2 linked regions of the Homo sapiens genome follow. The protein of the gene in region 1 purifies or fractionates together with the protein of each later gene. This does not show direct contact. Each region holds a gene or a part of one and is shown on either strand. Other genes may lie near its edges. The genes, in order: CRB2 and EPB41L5.

The links.
Region 2: the proteins of CRB2 (region 1) and EPB41L5 purify together in Homo sapiens (pull-down; one study listed by IntAct). This does not show direct contact.

What each region holds. Positions count from the first base shown.
Region 1 is NC_000009.12:123,362,558-123,366,376, reverse strand, and holds part of CRB2 (protein crumbs homolog 2 precursor), read right to left. Parts: intron 3,513-3,819; coding exon 3,189-3,512; intron 461-3,188; coding exon 265-460; intron 151-264; coding exon 11-150; intron 1-10. UniProt on the Homo sapiens protein: Apical polarity protein that plays a central role during the epithelial-to-mesenchymal transition (EMT) at gastrulation, when newly specified mesodermal cells move inside the embryo.
Region 2 is NC_000002.12:120,071,763-120,075,581, forward strand, and holds part of EPB41L5 (band 4.1-like protein 5), read left to right. Parts: intron 1-1,415; coding exon 1,416-1,458; intron 1,459-2,337; coding exon 2,338-2,416; intron 2,417-3,713; coding exon 3,714-3,758; intron 3,759-3,819. UniProt on the Homo sapiens protein: Plays a role in the formation and organization of tight junctions during the establishment of polarity in epithelial cells.

The sequences.
Region 1 (3,819 bases):
ACGCACACACCTGGCCAACAGAGGCAGCGGAAGCTCCCGAGGCCCTCGAGGCAGGACGCGTTGTGCTCGCAGGGCGCCGATGCGCACTCCAGCACCTCCCGCTCGCAGTGCGTGCCCTCGTAGCCGGTGCCCGCGCAGTCGCACCGGAACCTGGGGAGGGCGCACCGGCGGAGCTGAGCGCGCGCCTGCCCCTTCTGCCCCGCGCCTGGCCTCCCCGCCCTCGGGCACCCGGCGCCCCTGCCGCCTGCCCCGCCGCTCGCTCACCCGTTGACCAGGTCGTGGCACGTGCCCCCATGTGCGCACGGCTGGCTCTGGCACTCGTCGAGGTCCAGCTGGCAACGGGTGCCCCCGTAGCCTGGCGCGCACACACAGCGGAAGGAGCCCACGCCGTCCAGGCACGAGCCCCCGTGCAGGCAGGGCGCTGAGGCGCACTCGTCCACCTCCATCTCGCAGGTCACGCCTGGACAGGGCAGGGGACACACAGGGTGCAGGATGGACACCCAGAGCAGGGCGGAAGAGGTCGCGCCAGGCCTGCTCCAGAGTTAGAGACTCGTGGATTCATTCATTCAGAGCCGGATGGTGGTGGTGGTGGTTGGGGGGTGGGGGACGGGTCATGCCAGCAACCGCAGGGAGAGAAACGAGACAGACAGCCCTGCCTTCATGGGGCTCACAGCAGTCTAGGCCAGGACATGGTGGGGGGTGATTCAGCCAGTAATTACCTAAATGAGCTAGGTGATGTTGCCAAGTTCAACAAGGAAAGGGGTTGGGTCTTGGGAAAGCAATAGCCGGGGTCTGCTCTGTTCAGGGAAGGCTTCCTAGAAGAAGAGGCTTTTGAAGGATTCAGATAGGGGACTGTGGGCAGCAGTTGGATTCCAAAGAGACTGCAGCAAGAGGCAAGTTCCACTAGGGGCAGGGCCATGATGCCCTAGGCGGGGTTATTGGAGGGTTGGAAGCAAGGGAGAGGGTGGCGGAGGTGAGTCGGGTGGGAGGTGTCAGTGCCTTGGGGACCAGGTAACCTCTGGGTCCATCCTGAAAGTTTCAGACAGGTAAGTGACTTGGTCCCACCTACATTTTAGTTAGTTGTTTTGGGTTTGTTTTTGTTTTTTATTTTTTTGAGACAGAGTCTCACTCTGTCGCCCAGGCTGGAGTGCAGTGCTGCAATCTTAGCCCACTGCAATCTCTGCCCACTGGGTTCAAGTGATTCTTGTGCCTCAGATTGCAGAGTAGCTGGGATTACAGGTGCATGCCACCTCACCCGGCTAATTTTTGTATTTTTTTGTAGAAAAGGCGTTTCACCATGTTGGCCAGGTTGGTCTCCAACTCCTGGCCTCAAGTGATCCACCCACCTCAGCCTCCCGAAGTGCTGGGATTACAGGCGTGAGCCACCACACCTGGCCCTACCTACTTTTTAGAAGGTCCACTCTGGTGGCTTTCAGATCCCAGAGAGGCAGGAGATGCTTGAGTAGGGTAATCACTCCTCCCAGTGTCCCTGCACTGTCCTGGTTTTAGAACTGAAAGTACCAAGTCCCCAGAACCCTCGCAGTCCTGGGCGAATCACGACAGCTGAGTGGCTCTCCCAGGGTGATGGTGAAGAGGAAGGGAGATGGGGAGTCCCAGGGTTTCAGATACGCTGCCTGAGATCATCCTGGACTCACGTGTCACTGTAGACTCCAGCAGGCCCTGCCCCCTAAGTGGGTTTGGTCAAGCGGGGGCCAGAGGCCCAGCTGACTCCAGCTGGAACCCTCCCCCTTCTCAGTTCATTGAGCACAAAACATGGCCCCACCTTCCCATGACCCTTCCCTCCTCCCTCCCCATCCCCACTCCCACCCTCTGTGCCAGGGGGAGCCAGGCCTTGTCTGGAAATCCCAAACTCCCCCACCCGGCTTGGAATGGAAAGAGGAGAGAATGAGTCACGGCAGATGCTGCCCCCACTCACATCCACAGCTTACCCAGGAAGAGTCACCCGAAGTGTGTGAGTGCTACACATCCGGATGCACAACCCACTGCCCGCACAACCCACTGCCCGCACAACCCACTGCCCACACAACCCACTGCCCGAACAACCCACTGCCCACACATGCACTCAGACTGCAGACACCCCCAGGTACTGGCAGATCTTTACAGATGCAAAACAGAACTTGGAACTAGGAGACACATGGACGAATGTGACCTGCACTGGCATGTACACTAATACACCCAGACGCTGAGACACTGGAACGATGAGAAAGATGCATGGAACCAGCTTCCCAAATCTCTCTTCATCAGCTGCCATCTCTTCGCTGTAGGCCCCCTGCCCTGGAACCCAGCCCCCCAATCTGTACCTCTTGCTCTGAAGTGACTTCAAACTGCCCTCTGCCCTCAGAGTACAGTTGTCTGAATTCAGGATTGAAGTAGGATCCAGAGCATCTACACTGCAGACTCAGACTCTGCCCTGGACTCAGCTTCGCTCCCAGACTGCGCCCCTTCTGTCCCCAGCTGCGCCCTCCTTCCCGACTTCAGGCCTCTCTGGGAAGCCGCTCCAGGATGTTCTCGGCTCAGACCATGGGTGGGCCTGGGACGGGCCACACTCTGGAGAAGGTACCCTTAGTGCCAGTCACTTTTCTGAGCACTTACGTATATATTATCCCACTCCAGACAGCAGCGATCCCTGGGGTATGTCAACACTACAGTTTGAACGAGACCTTGTATGTCTATGCTAGAACTCTGGGGGAGACCCAGAGGCCAGGGGTCCACATTGCACTCCAGACCACATCAGGAGTGTTCAAATGAGCTGATGGTGACTGTCGTGTAGACAGTGTCTACATGACAGCTTGGCACAGGCCTGAAGTGCTAGAAAGACTATCTGGGCATCCTCACTAAAGTCACGCCAGGCAGGTTCACACTGCCAGAGATGAATGAGGGGTATTCCACCCCCGCAGCCAAACTGAACTCTAGGCTGGACTGAAATCACATTTACCGAGTGCCTGAGATGCGCCACACACCACGCCAGCACCCGCACATACATACTCTCACCCAGAGCTGCCAGGCATCAGTTCTGTAGTCAGACCAAGTGGATATACCCTAGAGCTGCCCGGATGCCTGGGGGCGTCCCTACACGAAAGGCAAAGCTGAAGCCATGATGCTTACACTCTGAGCAGCTGATGCGATCTGCATTACAGACCTCCTCCCAGGGCGGCCCAGGCTGTTACCTGCATAGCCAAGGGGGCAATGGCACTCGTAGCGATCGGCCAGGTTGCGGCAGGTGGCCCCATGGTGGCACGGCCGGGATGCACACTCATCGATGTCCAGCTCGCAGCGTGGGCCCTGGAAACCCGGCACGCAGTAGCAGCGGAAGCCGGTGGGATCTGGACCCTGGGGCACACACAGAGCGCCGTGGTGGCATGGCTGGGTGGCACAGCCCCGGGGCTCCATGGGCCCACAGGTATAGCCACCACTCTCGGTAGCCTGGCACTCGGTCCCTGGAGCGCACGGGTCTGAGGCACAGGCACTGGGGGGCTCTGAAGGCACCGTCCCTGTAGAAAGAAGAAACTGGCTGGGCAGGGTGGGCAGAGGTTACAAGGACAATCTCCTCCCCACCCTCTCAGGCCCACCCCAGACCCCAAAAGCAACGTGGGTCTCTGCATGCACAGTATGGACAGAGGGCCAGGGGTCTGCAAGCCAGGTCCCAGTAAGCTGCACACATCTGCACCCAGAACTGGGAACGGTTTTAGGAGAGCCTATATAGCAGAGAAACAGCACCAAGGATGTCTGGCTTCTGGGCAGGATTAGTGAGCAGAGGTTCCCTGAGCCCCGTGAGCTTCCCTCCACTGTCTTGTCCCT
Region 2 (3,819 bases), on another chromosome or scaffold:
ATACAGAAATTAACTCAAGATGGATTAAAGACTTAAACGTGTAAAACCTAAAACCATAAAAACCCTAGAAGAAAACCTAGGCAGTACCATGCAGGACATAGGCATGGGCAAAAACTTCAAACTAAAACACCAAAAGCAGTGGCCACAAAAGCCAGAATTGACAAATGGGATCTAATTAAACTAAAGAGCTTCTGCACAGTAAAAGAAACTATCATCAGAGCGAACAGGCAATGTACAAAATGTACAATGTACAGAAAATTTTTGCAATGTATCCATCTGGCAAAGAGCTAATATCCAGAATGTATAAGAAACTTAAACAAATTTTCCAGAAAAAAACAACCCCATCAAAAAGTGGGTGAAGGATATGAACAGACACTTCTCAAAAGCAGACATTTATATGGCCAGCAAACACATGAAAAAAAGCGCATCATCACTGGTTATTAGAGAAATGCAAATCAAAACCACAATGAGATACCATCTCACACCAGTTAGAATGGCCATTATTAAAAAGTCAGGAAACAACAGGTGCTGGAGAGGATGTGGAGAAATAGGAATGCTTTTTTTGGTGGGGGTGTAAATTGGTTCAACCATTGTGGAAGACAGTGTGGTGATTTCCTCAAAGATCTAGAACCAGAAATATCATTTGACCCAGCAATCCCATTACTGCGTATATACCCAAAGGATTATAAGTCATTCTACTATAAAGACACATGCACACATATGTTTATTGCAGCACTGTTCACAATAGCAAAGACTTGGAACCAACCCAAATGCCCATCAATGATAGACTGGATAAGGAAAATGTAGCACATATACACCATGGAATACTATGCAGCCATAAAATAGGATGAGTTCATGTCCTTTGCAGGGACATAGATGAAGCTGGAAACCATCATTCTTAGCAAACTAACACAGGAACAGAAAACCAAACACTGCATGTTCTTCCTCATAAGTGGGAGTTGAACAATGGTAACACATGGACACAGGGAGGGGAACATCACATACTGGCGCCTGTTGGGAGGGTGAGGGACTAGGGGAGGGATACCATTAGGAGAAATATCTAATGTAGATGATGTGTTGATGGGTGCAGCAAACCACCATGGCATGTGTATACTTACGTAACAAACCTGCACGTTCTGCACATGTATCCCAGAACTTAAAGTATTTAAAAAAAAAAAAAGTCATCTGTCAGGTTTTAGGTCGTTTTTGTTCACGTGTGTCATAAGCTTGCTATGGTGGATATTGGCTAGATACTCTTCCTTCTCACCTCTTTTCTCATTCACTTGGGTTTTTCTCTTGTGAAGTATTTCCTTGCGGTTATCAGTGTAGGCACAATGAAAAGTAACTTTTAGTAATTCATTCAAATTTTAAAGTTCTGTCATCTGCTTAACTAAATTTTTGTTTTTGTTTTTCAGCATTGGTTGGATGGTACAAAAAGCATCAAAAAGCAAGTAAAAAGTAAGTGCAGACAAAATTATTTGTGGGGGGGAAAGGAAATAGAATATATTAGAAATTCTGATTTCTAATAGGATGTAAGAAATCATGTTTCAGATGAGTTTTTTAGCATTTCCATTTTCTAGAAATTATTTTATTCTGATACACTGAGCTACTCCCCAAGTCATGTAGGCTTGATACTAATCTAGATTAAACTGCATTGGGGCTTAACTTTCCAGGAGAAAACCTTGCAGCTTGCAAATGGGATTGACTTTCCCCGAAATGCTTAATGGTTATTTTTTAATTAGTTGTGTTGGAATTTTCCTGTTTGGCATCTGCCCTAATATTGAAAGTATTTTGAGACTTTGTGATATTTTAAAATTAAGAAAAATGAAACAATTCACATAAAATGTTAGTGTCATTCAGAGAGAGAATACCATTGTTTATTCATTATCCAACTTGACTTTTTATCAGACTTATTAGGGCACCTCAACTCTTGTCTCAAAATAATGAGACCACTGAGATTATAGAAGTTAGTGAACTTGCTGAATTGTATTTGTGTGGGAAGATTCACCATGAGCAGTTAATAACATAGGCATTCTTCAGTGTAGCAGGTTTTCAGGGCTGTTAGGTTGCACAGTCAAGACTTTTATTTGATGCATTTGGCTCTGAACTGTTAGAATTAATCTATAGCTGTCTATTCTTGGGATGAGAGTTAATAGTAATATGATGGCTTGGTACATTAAAAAACAATCTAATTGAAGCCTATGATCTAACCTGCAATAATGCCATAAAAACCTCATCTTTTGTCTCACTTCAGTAGATTTTTGACCAGTTTTCTGGCTGAAAAGTATTATTTAAGTAGTTTATTTTATTAAAACCTTTTTTTTTTTTAAATGACAGTTGGTTCACCCTATTGTCTGCATCTTCGAGTTAAGTTTTATTCCTCAGAACCAAATAACCTTCGTGAGGAGCTAACCCGGTAAGAACACCATCTAGAATTGTGCCAGGGTTATTTTGATAGTTTTGAAAGACTGTCTTTATATTGTTTCCAATTTATAGCCAGCTAATAAAATGGATTCCTGTCCCCTGGTAACAAGACCTCAAATAATAGAATTTTATTCTGGGACGTGTTTTTTAAGTGTATGATTCTTTTCCTTTAGCATTTTCAAAATAAAGAGTTGGTTTCTTAGCATCCTCCAAAGGTGACTAGTGAGTTCTTTTTTTTAAGTATCACTCTCAACTCAGGAATGTTAACAGGATTCACATGTTTCAATACATTGCAATATTATATTTATTGATGTTGAAAATAATCTATCTTTGGCCACAGGGAGTTTATTCAAATTGGCGCCCAACTTTCTTTACTCATTGAAATGCCATTGATTAATGAAAAACATTAGATTCTGATTGGTTTGAATAGTTTTGAATAAACCTTATGTTGTATATACTTATTTTAATGTTATCCTGCCTCCTTTGTATTTATTCATGGTCTCTATTATAAATTCATTGCTCCATATACACATACTATTTATTAAATGAAAAAGTTGAGCTTTTGAGTTCCTTTAGAAGGGTTTCCTTTAGAACACCTTGACAATGAGATAGTAGCTATCATCTGTAGTTATATCCATGTCTGTATCCCTTCACATAACAAGTAGATGTCTCGCTCTGTCATCTAGGCTGGAGTGCAATGGCATGTTCTCAGTTCACCGCAACCTCTGTTCCCCCAGGTTCAAGCAGTTCTCATGCCTCAGCCTCCCAAATAGCTGGGATTACAGGCACGTGCTCACACCCCCAGCCAATTTGCGTATTTTAATAGAGACGGGGTTTCGCCATGTTGGCCAGGCTGGTCTTGAACTCCTGGCCTCAAGTGATCCACCCGCCTCGCCCTCCCAAAGTGCTAGGATTATAGGTGTGAGCCACTGCACCAGGCCTTTAATTAAGAATACTTCTAAGATCTAGTGTTAGATCAGTAGGGTGATTATAGTTTACAATTACGTATTTTACATTTCAGAATAGCTAGAAGAAAATAATTCAAATATTTCTAGCATAAAGAAGAGAAAAATATTTAAGGTGATGGATACCCCACGTATACTGACTTGATCCTTACAAATTATATGAATGTATTCAATTATTTCATGTATCCCCAAACTATGCACATCTTTTATACATTAATACAAGTAATTTTTAATGAAATAATACTTCTCAAGTTAGAAGTGTAAGATTTTTTTTCACAGTCGATTGTGCTGTTGGGTTAAATTTGTGCCTTTCATTTTTCTTAGGTATTTATTTGTTCTTCAGTTAAAACAAGATATTCTCAGTGGAAAGTGAGTATTAGTTATTTAAGGATAAATGCACATTTTCGTGAGTGGTTGAAAAATTATTTTG